Linked DNA regions of Homo sapiens: region 2 is linked to region 1. The links come from fine-mapping of genetic effects on gene expression. Tissue or cell type: whole blood. Region 1 holds a variant in brackets; the other region holds the start of a gene. All regions are shown on one strand. Distances are from middle to middle.

Region 1 (8,107 bases):
AGTAAATGCTGGTGACTTATCAGCGGGTGGCTGGTGATGTTTGGTTTGGATTGTGAAAGCTGCTTAGACCAAGATGGGCTGAGGGAAGGGGAGGAGAGTGAGCATGTAGAGGTTGAGGCACTTGGAGGAAGAAGCAGGCAGAAAAGGGTGGACTGAATGCAGACAGGACCTCCCACATGGGAAATATTTTCTCTAGATTAGGTGTACGGTGCTGAAGGCAGCCACACTCTCAGCACTATGTTCCTCATATTCTTTGAAAACTCTTCCTTCCTCATAGGGCTCTGCCTTGACATATACCTCTACCTCTCTTATCCATTTCACCCCAGCTATTTTTGTTCTAGGTCTCACCTGGGCAGATTCTAGGTCTGCTAACTAAGCCAAATTAGCATTGAAATAAGCTCCACATACAGTGGGCATATAAGTTCTGTTGACTGAGATAAATACATTCATGTTACAGTACTGCTTTGAAGAAAGACTATTTAATTTGATTCTCAGTCTCCAGAGGGATATAATAGGGAAACACAGTTTACGTTGACGGCCACCTAGAATAGATTCTGATTACATAAATTAGGTAACTTAAAACTCAATCTGAGCAGAGGAGCCACGACTTTCAGCCTGCTGTTGAATTGTGCTACTAAGCAAATGTGATATACTATTTACATAACAAACATTATTGTTATGTACTGTTTAGTCCATGTTAAGACCATCTCTTTGCATAAAAGCAGTTCTATTAAAGAGAAGAATTTAAGGTCTTGCTTTCCAGAGAAATGATTTAGAATTGTCTTTAAAATACAACCTAAAACACCTTATTTTGCTAACACAGTGCAAATCATTTTTATAATATGCACTGAAATTTATTTTTTCCATGAGGAATTGTCCTTAGAGTTCAAAAGAATCTTACCATCATATAGGCATGCACCCTCCCTCCACTAAAAATGGTGTACTATTTTAAGTACAGATCTTTAATTGTTGATCATTTTATTTTGCTGTGGCACAGAAATCTAAGATTTTGGATTTAAAAAAAAACTTTATAAGGGGGAAAAGGAAAAAGTTGCTCTGGAATAATAATTAGCTTTTAGAAGCATTTAAGATCTTTAGGAGACATTATAACAACTAAATAGGAGCTCTGGTTCAAATTTTATAGGATTCTTATATAAAACTTATATTGAGTTTTCTGTTGTAAAAACAGCCCTGTGTTTCTCTGCCATTATTTGGGCTTACAACCATAATTAAAGGCCAAGGCTATGCCCCAGATTCCATGTTAGCCATCTTTTATTTTAAAAATACCCCAAATGGGACAAATTCATACTGGGACTGAGACAATGTACTTAGTTCAAAAAGGGGAAGGAGGTAATAAGCTGTCTCAAAAGCCTCTTTTCCCCTAATAGTCATATATCCACCTGAGGAAGCCTCGTCTGAAGAAGCCAGTGAGGCACCTGCCTGGCTACTCCCATAGTCAGGTGGGTTAAAGAACAGATTATTTTCAGGTGGGAGAGTATCTCAATATTTCTTAAGGTGATCTGAGAAATTATAAATTACCATTGAAGCTGGAAATCTTGAAATTCCAAAGTAAATAGACATTATTCAAGCATACACATCAGTGGACTATGAAGACTAATTTTAACATAATAAGCAAAGAATTAAAGAATTCACATTCACATGTGCTTTTCTCACGTACACTTGCACATTTAAGTTTGGCACAATGTGAGCGCAAGGTGTAGATCAGCATATTGCATAATCACGTCATTATACCAATTGAACCAGATATCTCTTTTAAAAATATCACATTTTAATATAAAAAGCTATACTATAAATTACTAAATAGTAAATTCAATACTCTGAAAAAATACCACCCTGGAAAACCGCATCAGAATTTCAAGTTTGCATTGGATAAAGAGAGTTAACAGCAAACTCGTTGTAAAATGGTATTCACAACCTGAAATGCTGTGCATGCTGCGTATTAGTAGGTGCTTTAGCACCTGCAGAAGTCAATTTTTCTAGGCTGGTTCACTGAGGTTCATAAATATATGGTGTTGTTTTTGTTTATAGTTCCAAGTCAACTTATTTTCCTATTGATAAGATAGATCAATGCTGAGCTAAAAAGAAACTTTGCAAGGAAAGAGATCTATTAAAGGCACTAATATTTCCATAGCCTAAACTCCAACTACTTACATTTCCAGGGAAAAAAATAAACACAAACTAAGTGGCCATTTTAGTTACTTAAACCTTGTTTCCCCTTTTGGTCTAAAGCTCATATGGTGTTCTGTGAGAATTTCTCCTCCTTTTCAATACATACAAATCATTTTTTATCCTGTTATACAGTTCGCCTGCACAAAAATATAGGGCTATTAATTGAAAGCATCTAGTAAAAAAACAAATTCAAGAATAAATGACATCCTCAACTTGAAAGTTGTGAAGTTAGGTAAGTCAAATGGACATTTATGTTGCCATTTGTGTTTTGCCATTCTCCTAAATATTTTCTTTGTATTACATATCTACATAATGTAATATTGAATAAAAGTTAACATATGGCATATGCAATAAAACAGACGAGATATGGCACAAGTTCTCTGAATAATCTCTTTAAATAAACCACCCTGTCTTTAAAAATATTAGTAATTTTTTCCTCACATGGAAGATTTCAAACAGGATCCTGGAATCCAAAAATGCAGAACTACCTTATGTTAATAAGTATACAGTCATATTTGTTTTCCTATCTGGAACAAAATCTAAAAGAAAGCAACCCAATATATTGTACCAGAGGAGGATGATAAATGGAAGAGGAAAATGATTTCATGAAACACTAGTTCACGATTCTTTCACAAAAGAAAAGTTAAATCTTATATCACAAGTAAGTCTAAAATGAAATATTTGCGGGAACTCTAACAGAAAATTTTATCTATATTATTTACTATGAAAAATGGATAAGTTTTCAAAAATTAGCATGTATGTGTACAATTCAAGTCACCCTTAACTAACCAAAAAGTGTTTAAAAAGCAGTGCAGTTGTGTCCTACTGGATAGTTGTAAGCATCTCTTTAGGCACTTCACTGGTTCATTGACATAATACAAATTAAAGCTATAAACACATAATGTGCTCTCTGAAGATAGTCTAATCAAGCAACGTAAACCAATGCAAAAATGTGACTTTTTGGCCGCTTATTCCTCCCCTATGACTTAATAACGTTTTTAAACCAGTTGTCCAAGGAGATTTTTCTGGGGAAGGGAATGCTTTGGCATTATGAAAGGAACATTGTTCAATCCCAGAAAGGTAAAACTGAAAAAAGCCTGTGCAATAAAGAAATTTGAAAAAAATTTCTTTATGGCTCTGTTTAAAAGGACACTTTTGCAGTGATATGACAGGGGGAAAGTTTAGTTGAGTATTTTTTGAACATATTGCACTCTGTTTTTGTAGTTCAATCACATTAATGCATAGAAACACAATTTTTACCTTTGAAAAATAAACTGTCTAACCTATTATAAGAACAAAAGTCATGGAAAATAATTTCTAAAAGCCTAACAGGAAAAATAGGCATATTAACCTTCCTTTGCTTAACGAAATATAGAAAAAAACTATGAGAAAGGAAAAATGTGCAAAGAAAATTTTTGGTCAGTCTTGTGTGGGTACAGGTTTATATGTGCCAACTAAATGAACTGTAAGCAGCACTGTGAGCACTGATTATTTAAGGTGACTGAGGATTACTGTCAGTGATAGGATTGTGTTATAATTCCACTTATATACATCTGATATGGAAAACTGAAACTTCCATTTTAGAAGAGAAAGAAAATAGCTGAATTTGGCATTTCAGTAGCATGCTATAGAATTCATCATGATTAATTTCACATTAAATTATGGGCAATAGCTGTATCACATTTCATGTTATCGCCAATAGCAGTAAAACAACAATAAATGAACAAACAAACAAATAAAAAACAGTGCCTGACAAATAATCTCCTGGGGACACAAATATGTGTCCAGTGAGCAGCTTGGTTCAACAGCGCATGCTTTTCCTCCACCAGATTTAGGACACAACATTAAAGTTTTAGAATGGCCAGAGAGGTCACTCTTTGCTGAATTCCAATATCTGAAAAACAATTGCTTGAGCAGATTGTAAGCACTTGTCCTTATTCTTAAAAAAAAAAGGGCGGGGTGGGGGGAGAAAAAATACACATACACACAACCCAAA[G/A]GCGCTGAAGTTAAGCATTAATACGCCAGATTCATGATTTATGATCAGTATCCAAAACTCCAACTACAAACAATGCAAAGTAGTGCTCCTCAGTATTATTTTTGCAATTGTTAGTAATGTTAAGCATCAAGGAAAATAAAACACATCATTGCACATTACAGCCGCAAAAAACAAAAAAAAAAAAACAAACGGCTAAACTTTGACACTAGAGAACTGAATAATTTTTGATGCTATATCACAAATAGCTTCAATGTTTATCTTATGTGAAAGGTCTTTACACATGTATGACATTTTCCTTGGGTGATACTTCAGGTCAAATGCCGAGTTATGGCACGAAGAGCATAAAGAAGTTCAGCTTGCATTCGTGCTTCCATTAAAAGTAGATTGACATGAACCTAGAAGTGAAAATGTTATCAGTTTAGTAACCATTATAAACACCTGGAAAATCTTATTAGACATTCACAAAGGTTTTTTTATGTGTATATAAGCAATATACACACACACACACACCTAGGCATATTTATCCATGTTCATGATGCAACACTCAAACCTGTGTCTAATGGCTCTGCAAGCAGTAAAAATAACCCATAAAATCTAAAAAATTCTGATAACTTTATTAAAGTTGTTATTTTTGTAAAGTCAATCTGTTGGGTTATAAAATAAAACTAATTTTTATAAATTATAATTTTCCTACAAATTACATTTCTTTCTAGTTATAAAATTTTACATGGCTAAAAATCAGCCCTCATTTTTTTTTTTAACAGTTTATGCTTATCCTGTGAAAAGCTTTAAAAAATTTTTCCTAGTATTTACTTAAAAGATACTAAAGTGAAAATCTGATGTTTAAAGTTTCTGATTAGTGTTTGATACTTGTTAGACATACATAGCTTCCCTAGAGTCTTTCAGATAAAATTCTGCAGAACATTTCTTTCGGGGTTACATCTCGGCTGATAAGTTAAAATGGGTATCCACAAGTTTTCAAAATTTACTATAAAAATATGTTTTAATATTATATTCTTTTGATATATTTATACCAGTTGGATATGTGGTTGGATATATTCTCCTGAAGAGTAAAGAGAATTTCTAGATACAATCTAGAAAAGGAAGAAAATCTAGAGCAAACATATAAATATGGGATAAAGACCCATCAAGGGGAAATGCTGGATGTAAAATGGGTATTTACCTGATGTGAGTGGCTCTAAGACTTCAAAAAATCTGTTAGGTACTGAAGCCATAACATTCTCTGCTAAGATCATACAGTTTATTAGCGAATGTTTCCTAAAAAGATTTTCTTACTTTCAAGCTTCGAAACTGTTGTATAAAGGAGATTCTTGAACTTAAAGGTTAAAAGTCCTAGGACTTAAGGCCAGCTCTTATACTATGATGTTGATAAAGATCCTTAACATTTATTAGGTTTTCTAACTTCATGTTGCCTATATATTTCTTTCAAATAAATATTTTTATGTAACAGTATATTTGGCTCAAAGGTCCTGAATTATACTGTCAAAACACTAAATTACCAAGTTTGGGTAAAAATCTATTGTCTTTTTTTCGAGAGATGAAGTCTTGCTCTGTTGCCCAGGCTGGAGTGCAGTGGAGTGATCTCGGCTCACTGCAACCTCTGCCTCCTGGGTTCAAGCGATTCTCCTGCCTCAGATTCCCAAGTAGCTGGGACAACAGGCATGCACAACCATGCCCAGCTAATTTTTGTATTTTTTAGTAGAAATGGGGTTTCACTACATGTTGGCCTGGCTAGTTTTGAACTCCTGACCTCAGGTGATCCCCCCACCTCGGCCTCCCAAAGTGCTAGGATTACAGGCGGGAGCCACTGCACCCAGCCACTATCTGGGTTTTTAAAATATTTTTTTAATTCAGATTTATTGACTAGTAACCCAATTTTGGTTATATGCTTTGTTCAATATAGCATATAAAAGTTTATCGTAAGCCTTAGAAATACTAGATCTGAGTACTGATATCTTCAAAGCACATTTGGAAAACTGTCTACAGTTCTAACTATTAATAAAAATCAGACATACTGAAATGTTGTATTAGGTATAATTGTATTTTGGCCCAGAAGGCACATCCATTTCGAGATTCTTTAACCACTAAAGTTAACCTATTAAGACAACGGTTTCTGCTGGGCACAGTGGCTCCTGCCTGTAATCCCAGCACTTTGGGAAGCCGAGGTGGGCAGATCACCTGAGGTCAGGAGTTTGAGACCAGTCTGACTAACATGGTGAAACCCCACCTCTACTAAAAATACAAAAATTAGCCAGGCGTGGTGGCAGGCACCTGTAATCTCAGCTACTCGGGAGGGTGAGGCAGAAGAATCACTTGAACCCGGGAAGTGGAGGTTGCAGTGAGCTGAGATCGTGCCACTGCATTCCAGCCTGGCAAACAAACAAGCAAAAAAACCCCAGATAGCTAGATGATGCCACTTCCATGTCAATGGCTATAATTTATTAATACTTTCATGTGTCATTTTTCATAACTATTACTTCTTGTACTGAAGAACTGTCTATGGTATAATGCTTAATACTGAAACACGTACTTTTTCTGAGTGTTTGAACTGCCGCCAGTAACTATCATACATGCGTTTTGTAGTTCTCTCAGGATAGCAGGTCACTGTCTTAATGTAAACCTTCAGGCTTCTTTCAAGTAATTGATTAACTTCTCCATAATCATAGTCATCATACCTACGAGCAATACAACAATAGCTTTATAATGACAAAATCAAAATATTTAGTTTCCAAAGTTATACTAAGGACATTTATTGTCTAGTAATTAAATACTAAAAGCTCGTTAATTAATTGAATCAACAAATGTTTACTGAGTACCCATTATGTGCCATGAGTACTCAGTAGTAGTGATATACTAGTGAACAAAACAGACAAAAATCCTTGGTCTCATGGAGCTTAAATTTTGTTGAAGAAAAAACGAAGAAAAATTAAAAAGATAAACACATTGTAGTCAGATGGTGATAACTGCCATGGAGAGGAAATGGAACTTGGTCTGGGAGGAGAGGAGTTGTTATTTTAAATAGGGTGGGCAGGAAGGCTTCTCTGAAAGCCTTGATATTTGAACAAATACCAGATGGTGGTAAAGAAGCAAGTGTAAAGGACTTGAGGTAGGAGTCAAGTGTTTCAGGGAAGAGCAAGTAATCACTGAGTCCCATGCTGCCAAATAGTCAAATAAGATAACTGGGAACTGACCACTGGAAGTAGCTATATGGAGGTCACTAGCAACCTCGGTAAGAGCAGTTTTGTTGGTTGATAGGGACAAAAGCCTGATACTGTGAATAGGTTCAAGAGAGAATGGGAGATAAGAAAATAGTGACAGTAAATATACACAATTTTGTCAGAGATTTGCTTCGCACGAAAGCAGAAAATGAGGCAGTAGCCAGATGGAAATGAAAGGTGAAACTGAAATTTTCTTTAAAGATGGGAGAAATTAAGTGTGTTTCAATGCTGATGGGAAAGATCCAAAATGGGAGTAAAGCTGATTATGCTGGAGAGAGAAGGGAGCATTGCTAGAACTGAGATCTTTAGAAAATGAGAAATGGGATTTTGTGCATAAGTGTATAGGAACATAGACAGTAATGACAGCAGAGTAAATGGGCACAGATGTAGACAGGTAGGTAAATGTAGTATTGGGAACTTGTGGAATTTCTCTGTTACATTTTCAGTTAATTTTTAACCCATATAATGCTTAGTTTAATAAAAAGAGTATCTTGATGCATTTATGTAAGCTTTATTTTGTAGCATCCAACAGATATATTCACCACATTTGTTGCCTTGTATCCAATACATATTTATTGCATTTAAATTGAGTTTTATCGGTGTTTATTTTTCTTAAGTAGGTAGATATGATATATATGTGTTTTAAAATGTATTGATTCTTTGATAACATTGTCTAGCATGG
Region 2 (8,107 bases), 58 kb after region 1:
GGGGGTACCCATATTTTTAAATTACAGTTTTAAAATAAGTTAAAACATACTTAAAAATTTAATGCAACTCAAGCATTTTAAAACCCCAAAGAATCTTAAGGGTCCATACGAAGCAGTTTGAAAACCATTGCATAAAGGTTTGCCATCACTAATTAACTACTTGATCTCTGCTTAGGATATTTAAGATAATCAAGTTAAAAACTGCCTTTGACAATCAAAAATATGTAACACAAGAAAACTGATTAACCAAGGCATAATGTAACTAGTGGTCCACAGATAGAGCAAATACATTTTATTGGCTAAACCATATAAAGTTGCTATTACTTAACAATTTTGACTATAAAAATGAGGCTCATATAGTTCAATCTAGTATTTTTCTTTTTTTTTTTTGTCTTTTTTTTTGAGACAGAGTTTTGCTCTTGTTGCTCAGGCTGCAGTGCAGTGGCGTGACCTTGGCTCACCACAACCTTGGCTCACCACAACCTCCGCCTCCCAGGTTCAAGTGATTCTCCTGCCTCAGCCTCCTGAGTAACTGGGACTACAGGCACACGATTCCACGCCCAGCTAATTTTTGTATTTTTAGTAGATATGGGGTTTCACCATGTTGGCCAGGATGGTCTCGATCTTTTGACCTCGTGATCTGCCCACCTTGGCCTCCCAAAGTGCTGGGATTACAGGCGTAAGCCACCATGCCCGGTCCTCAATCTAGTATTTTTCATTTTGACAGTATCTTTGTTTATAAAACCATCAAAAAGATGTCAAAATATATGATCATATAACAAAGTGAAAAGTGCAATAACAATACAAAGATATATCACTATAACTATCTTAACATTAAAAAAGTTTAAATGTTAGATCCTCTAAAGAGCACAAAACTATTCATTTAAGTAGCACTAACTGCTCAATACCCAAAGTACATTGGAATATGCCACTTTTTTATTTACTGGAAGATGAGTGGACTGATAATTACCTACCTTCCTCAATGCAGTTTGACACATGACTTTTCAAATTAAAGGATTATGTTCTTCTAGTTATCACTAGAATTTCTTCAAGTAAAAGATTAAACTTAAAAACTCGTTAACTTTACAAAATAAATAGAAGCATTTCCTCTTTTATTAAAAACTTTACTGAACTACCTCATTGACAATAGAGCAAGTTAGACTTAAGAGTTAGGGATTTCAGGATAGTTTTGATGGTTAATTTATTTATGGATATGGTTTACCTCTCCATTCTTTTTACTGTCCTAAGGTTACCAAATTAGGTACATTCAATATTTTAATAAGTCTCTTTATTTTGGAGGATACTAAATCAAAACCGTAAACGGACTTCTAAGAATAAATGTAATTCTCATACAATATATAATTCAATATTCAGGCATTGGGTTAAACCATATTATTTCATTTGAAGGTGAATTCCATTCCTTGTGAAGTTCCCCTAAAATTCAACACACTGCAACAAATTAAGCCACCTACTGAGAGAATAACACTTTCTGTCCCATATAAAGGTGACCCTTCTTCCATCATTATATAGAAATATAAAAGCAAAAGTAATTCACACTGGATGAGCATGAGTTTCATTCTTCCATTATGAATTAGACTGAACAAACATTCAAAATACTATGACTCACTTGGCTACATTACTGAACACTTTATTAAATGGAAAACAAGATAAACTCTAAGAATCACATTTTGAGAGTTATAGATGACTTTTAACTTAGAGTTATATCAACAAGAAAAACATGTCTTTATTAGAAATAAACTTTTCATTGTTATTTTAAGAATGATGAAACATTTAAAATGCTACATACTGATTCTCTTAAGAGCACTTCAAAGTGGCACTCTTTAAAAAGCTGCAAATGTTGCCAAGTCATGTTATAACTGGCTCAAAGAATCCTATTTCCATTAAGTTATTTCATGCCACTGCATGAATCAATATTAAATACCTTGGAGTTACTAAAAACTGGAATACTGGCAGAGATGTGCTCAGCAATTATAAAATACGAAAATGTGAATACTCTTTTTCCACGTTTCTTTTAATAATGGCTAGAAATGAGGATGTTCTTTCTAGGTAAACAGAAATAGTTTCCTAAAAGCTAAAGGAAAGATGTAATATCTTAAATGCTAGCAAAGTGTCATGGATCCATAGCCATAGCTCTCTCAAAAGAAAAATGAAATACATTTTGAAGCCTAATATTACCTCCAAACATTTTATTAGCCTAACAAATTGCCAGAGCCATTAAAAAATTTTTTTATCAAAGTCAATACAGTGCTCTTTTTCCTTATTCAATTAAAAAGCATAACTTGCTGTCATTTTAACCAGGCTGCACTTTAATCAAACATGTCTTAAATGACACATTTTTTCATGTCAAAGACATAACATAAATTTAAAAATTAAGAAATAAATTTTTTTGAAAGCTAAGTTCAGATGACATCTGGCCCTGCAGTGAAAGAGTTAACATCCAACTAAGCTGATCTGCACTTCTGATCCATTACATTTCTCACAAGCTACCCTACAATGAGCTGAGCAAGTATCAACTGTAATTTGATCCTAGAGTTTATGGAAAAAAATAACTGCACATACTCAACATGCACATTTAATAAAAATCTGTTTCAAGAGAAACATATCCAATAAACACAATTTAAGGCATATTTAACTGTTCAATTAACCTCAAATCTGCAATCCCTTTGCTCTCACGCTCTCAAATAAAATAGGAAGAAAAAAAAAAGCAGCAGCCCTACTGCAGGGAAAAGAGGCTTGAAAAACAACTTTGATTGGCACTTGGCCTGACCCACAGAGGAAGAAAAACAGTTTTTGGACAAAGAGCGCAAATATTTGAGCTTGCTTACTTATGTGCTTTTTTCTTTCTTCCTTTTTTAAAAAAAAATGTAGAAAGAACAATCCCAAAGTGAACCGTATTTAGAGATGTTGACTAAAAACGGTACCATATTCATCTCCGCTTTCAGTCCCGATGCATTTGCACAGCTCAGCAATTTTAATTCATTTGTAGTGAACAAACAGAAGCATCTCACCTAACGTTTCCACTTAATAAAATGTAAAAATAGAGTTTGAATACGAATAAACTGATTATAATATTACTTTGGGGCAGCTGTTAAAATCTGATCAAAAAGTCTAGAGACCTTTTTTTCATTCCCTTCCCCATCCCTCTCGCCCTTCCCCGCGGGGCGATTAAGCCAAGTAAGCTAAACAATACTGGAGTAAACTTTCTATCAGTCACTCTAGGAAGCAGCAATAAACTGATGGTGCGCCTCATTTTTCTGGATCAACACGGGGGCAGGGGGGTGCTAAGGAGGAATAACCCACATCCACCTCAGTCTTCTCCTCCCCCAACCCCAGCCTCAGGAACTGGCCAGGTCGAATTGCATTTCCCATGGGCATAAAGTTCAAGATGCTTTACTGGTTCCTTTCGAGACTGAACTACAGACACAGGACTACCATCCAAACAATTTGAAAACGGGGGTTGTTGAGCAAGGCGCGCAAGGCAGAAGCAACCGAATAAACAAAAACAACACTCGCAAGAGTTAGCCACAGCAAAGAGGGGCCAGGTTCCTCGGGATCCGACCCAGCTGCTCTGATTTCACACCGACCTCCATCAACAGCTAAACTGCACAGGGAGGAGGATCGAACGGATCCCTCCCGCCCTCCGCCCAAGGAGCCGACCCGGGGTAGCAAGGTAGGGAAATGAGCCGTAAAGGAGAGCAAAGGCACCAAATAAAAGGAACAAGGGAAGAAAAAATATCCCAACCCCTCCAGACTTGGGTCTGTCCCGGCGGAAATAAAAAGCCGCAGTAGTCCAAACCCTCCTGCCCTCAACCCACGCCCCCTTTCTCAGTCCCTGCGGAGGGACGGTGCCCGGGGATCCCTCTCAGCCTCCCCCAGTGCGCGCCCGGGGACGAGCCGCCCGAGCCCCGGCCGGCAGGAAGCGACCCTCGCCGGCAGGACCCCGGGCCGAACCCGTACCTTCCGCAGCACTTTCCGGCAGTTGGTACAGAGCAGGTAGTTGGCGGCGGCCGACGGGCTGCCGCCGCCCCGGTTCATCGTGGCTGCGGGCGCCGAGGCGAGAGCGGGCGGAGGGCCGGGTCCGGGCTGTCACTGCGGCCACTGCAGGGCCGGTCCGTCCCCCCGCCGCCAGCCGCGATTCCGCCTCAGCCTCCTCAAGGCGGGATGTCGGGAGGAGAGGCGACTGCCTGAAAGCTAGCGGCACTGCCAGAGGCGACCACCGCGGCAGCTGCCCCAGCGACGGCGGAGACGGCGGCGGCTGCTCCTCACCGGCCCGTTGTTCCACCCGCCCCCATCTTCCAGACCCCCGCCCCCGCCAGGCTAGGACGAGCAGCCGCCACCGCTGCCACCGCCACCACCGCCGCCGCAGCGCCTCAGTGCGGCCCCGCCTCCGCCGCCCCACCACCTTCACCACCTCCACGCTCCGGTACCGCCCCTCCCGCCAATCGGACAGCTCCGGCTACGCCCCCAGGGCGCTAGCCCGCAGCCAATGAGCAACGAGAGCCCGACTGGGAGTCGCGCCGGCCAATCGCAGGGGCCGAGGAAGCCTTGAATCTCCGGGCAAGTTAAGTTTATCTCCGAGGCTCGGAACTGAAGGGAGGTGGCGGTTAGCTAAGTAGTAGGGTAGCAGGGAACAGTTTGCTCTCCTCTGCCAATAAGAGGACGAGGGTGTGTCATATGCAAATATACTGCCCTCCAAGCCCCACCCCCAAGATAAGCTACGCCCCCTTCTCTAGGTCCCTGCAGAAGTGGTGAGGAGAATGAGATAAATAGTTGGGAGCTAGAGCTCGCTAGAGAGTCTAAGATTGAGCTAAATATTTCCTGATCTCTCGAGAAAGGGGGAGGGGAGTGGGAGGATTAAATGTTCCTTCCTTCAGGGCAGTGGTTAGGCTTTCTCTCCACCAAAATCTAACTTTAGCTGTAAAGAAGACTGCAGTTATGTAGTACTTTGTATCCAGGGATCTCAAAGAACTTTACGCATCATTTATTGTGAACCTTGTTTTGCAAAGATTTCAGTTACTTGAGGCTTGGGAGGCGGATAGGGGATAAATGTCTGAGTTATATATATATTTACGCAAGTAATCGAGTTTGAGGGGAGAGACACAAAACCTCTGGTTTAGCGGTTTCCTCTTGTTTGTGAAGCACCTTCTAGCAGTTATCTTAGAGATGTAAGTTCATTTACTTGTCCAGCACTAAAAGGCCAAAGGGGCTTGTTTTCTCACCCAAAAGACCTTCCTGAGGCAGCTGTTCGGATACATGCAGAGCACAGCGCCCTGCTCAGAAAGGAAGGTTCAGAGAACAAATTGTCGTTTAAAACTATTGGGACAAACCTACCTCTTCTAAAGCTTAAAATGGTAAGTCAGGGTTTTAGCGTCCACGTTCTGCGGAGAGAAGGCAGACTTGACTGGGGAAAGCGCAGGCTGACCGAGTGTGGCGGGACAGACGGGTAGGGGAGCCAGGTCTCCCGAAGGGGCTAGCAATGCGCGTCCGAGTCGAATGCGGGTTCCCGATGCTAGACGCCCGCAACCTGCTCCCGAGTGAGAACAAAGGCCGGCGCAGAGCGAGAACCTGATTGGTGCCCGGTCCTCACTCGTGTCCTCCGGGCCCCAGAGATAACTTGCATCGCCTACTGGCAAGGAGCTCTGTGCTCACTGGAGCCCAGCTCCCCACCCGGCCATGGCCGTGGCCACAGGACTGTGCATTATGACATCACCTGTTTTCGATTTTTAGAACCTAATCAGTATTCTCGGCTTCTCCCTTTTTAAAGGTCTCCAGCGTACCAGGATTTGTGAAGGCCTGAAGTTCGTAGAATGAAATCTATGTGGAGATGATTTAAAAGAACGGTTTCACTGGTTTGCATTTCTTTCTTTTCTTTTTAATTAAAAAAAAACAACAACCCTGGTTTCCTTAGGGATTCAGGGTGGTGTTATGCAAAATCGGAAAGGTACACTTGGAGGAGCTAGCAAGTTTAGCATATCAAAGCTATTAGACCAATTTGTGCGGTTAAAACTGCCATTCTCATTTCTCAACAGCTGTCTCCTCTCTGTCCCTTTTTAGAGACCAACACATATAAACCAAGTCTACACAAGAAACAAAGGTAATGGAAATCTGCTAGTATCAGGTTTAAATAGATCAAAATAGAGTAGAAAACCCCAAAAGGGTCTAAGTTATGTAGTTGGGTAAAGGTGTTGATCTATTTAGCCAGTGTTAGCTAAAGGTCGCTTGATGCTGTGTAGACATACATAACTAAAGAGCAATGAATGGTGTGGGGAAGGTGCTTAAGATTCAGTTAGAAGAAACTGTAAAAGCAAGTAAATTCAGAAAAGGAGGGAATTACCACATGCCCTTCGATGCAGAGAACCAAGAAATGCAGGGAGAAAGTCAGCAAGGCACAGTTTTTCTAAGAAACACATATGTGTCCCCATTTAGTGGTAAATTTCTTGGGCTATATTCCTGGCTGGTTCTGGCTTTTAAAGCAGATTTTATGTGAGTACATTTTAAAGGAAAGGAGAAATTGAAGGATGAAGTGAATTTTTGTGCAGATTGAATTTTCTCAAATAGAATTTTAAATTCATATTGTTTTCTAGCACATTCTTCTTATAACCTTTTCTTTTCTTTTTTCACTTGACAGCTAAAATCCTTTCGAAATGAGTTCCTTTAAGTTCTTCAGTAACTAAATCCTCCAGAAAGGAAAGCCGAGAGAATCTAGTCCTATACAATAACACCCTCTAACAAAGATCGCTAAAGGAAGATTTTAGTAGATGAATATCTTCAATAATACATGGTCACATACATGTATCTGACCATATGATGGCTCTCTGCACCAAATTCCTCCAAACTATTATAATATGTATTGTCTGTAGTGCTATTTATTTGGCAGTTAATCATGTATTACATTGTGACATTTCTTACAGTGAACCATTATGTATGTGTTTATGTTCTGCCCTCAACTACTCAATGCCAGTACCTTATTCTTAACACAGCAACCACCCTTTCTGGTCTGTCCTCACACCCTCATTCCCATCATAGTTATTCTCCTCTCTCATGGAAATGTTCAGTTTCTGGACATCTCCTTTCTCTTCCATTCTTCACCTGACCTTCCTTCCTTTCTTGGCCAGCCTGAATATTATAAAGGGAATTTTATTTCAAACCCAGGATCGCACTTAAGAGGAAAAGAAACAAAAGCCAGTTCTTTTTATTGCACATAGAACAAGGAGAAACTCCACCCCTTTTGTTGTCTGGTATGTTTAAAACAAGAAAGAACTTTAGAAAAGTAGGATATGAGTGAAAATTACAACCAATGTTGAGAACTACTTTTTAATTTTTTATTACAAAATTAGGATGATACTTCATTAAACATTGTACATCATTTCAAAACTGTTATCTCATAATCATGTTGCTTGTTTTGAATTATTCTTTTAAAGTGTAATTTTTTTAAGCAAAGAATCCATAAAATTACATGGCTTGGATGTACCATAACTTACTTAATCCTTATGCTATTGTTTAATATGTGGGTTGTTTCAGATTTTTCATGATTGTAAATAACAAAATAAACTTCCTTATACTTAAGTTTCTGGCAGAATCTCTGATTCCTAGGCCTGGAATTTCTGAGTAAAAGGGTATACATATGTCTTAAGGCTCATGGTGCAACTTGCTATAATATTTTGTGGAAAGATTTGAATAAGAACACAGGTGAGAGCAATCATTTGAAAGCTATCATTCTGCATAAGGCCCATCAGTATTCCACCTACCTCTACCTTAATCCCTTTCCCTTCTTCCTTCTGCCTGGTGAATATCTTCTGTTGAAACACTTCCTGAATCAAGCACTTGTCCAAGCATCCATAGTGCCCCTCTATACCTCTTCTTTACCAAAAAGCTCACTAGGGAAATGGTAGGTTTAACTCCTGTTTTCTCATTAGACTTCAAACCCCTTGAAGGCAGGGATAGAGTAACATTTACTTTGTATCCTTGGCTCCTAGCTCAACTGATAGGGAAGTGCTCAAAAAAATTTTGGAGAAAGTAATGAGTTTCACTCTTTATAAAAGCACCCCAATAAATGTGAATTGAATTGTTCAGAAAAATCCACTGC

The links. PIP is the estimated chance that this variant, and not a neighbour inherited with it, causes the effect.
Region 2: it holds the start of SESN3, and the variant in region 1 is fine-mapped to the expression of SESN3 in whole blood (INTERVAL, PIP above 0.99). The same link has a PIP of 0.9 or more in lung.

The regions. Positions count from the first base shown.
Region 1 is chr11:95,168,761-95,176,867 of GRCh38, forward strand. It overlaps SESN3 (sestrin 3), which reads right to left. Exons shown (of 10, transcript NM_144665.4): 9 at 6,738-6,882; 10 at 1-4,581. The coding sequence ends at 4,495. Among named protein-coding and RNA genes, the nearest start is that of LNCRNA-IUR, 22 kb to the left of the region's middle. The variant G/A (reference allele first, on the strand shown) is at 4,187.
Region 2 is chr11:95,226,805-95,234,911 of GRCh38, forward strand. It overlaps SESN3 (sestrin 3), which reads right to left and starts at 4,398. Exons shown (of 10, transcript NM_144665.4): 1 at 3,979-4,398. The coding sequence starts at 4,056. LOC100129203 (a long non-coding RNA gene) reads left to right here and starts at 3,382. Exons shown (of 6, transcript NR_110295.2): 1 at 3,382-3,691; 2 at 4,321-4,769; 3 at 5,248-5,372; 4 at 5,786-5,870; 5 at 6,076-6,115; 6 at 6,650-7,600. RefSeq lists silencers at 3,952-4,261, 4,272-4,421 and enhancers at 4,777-5,416, 5,417-6,056.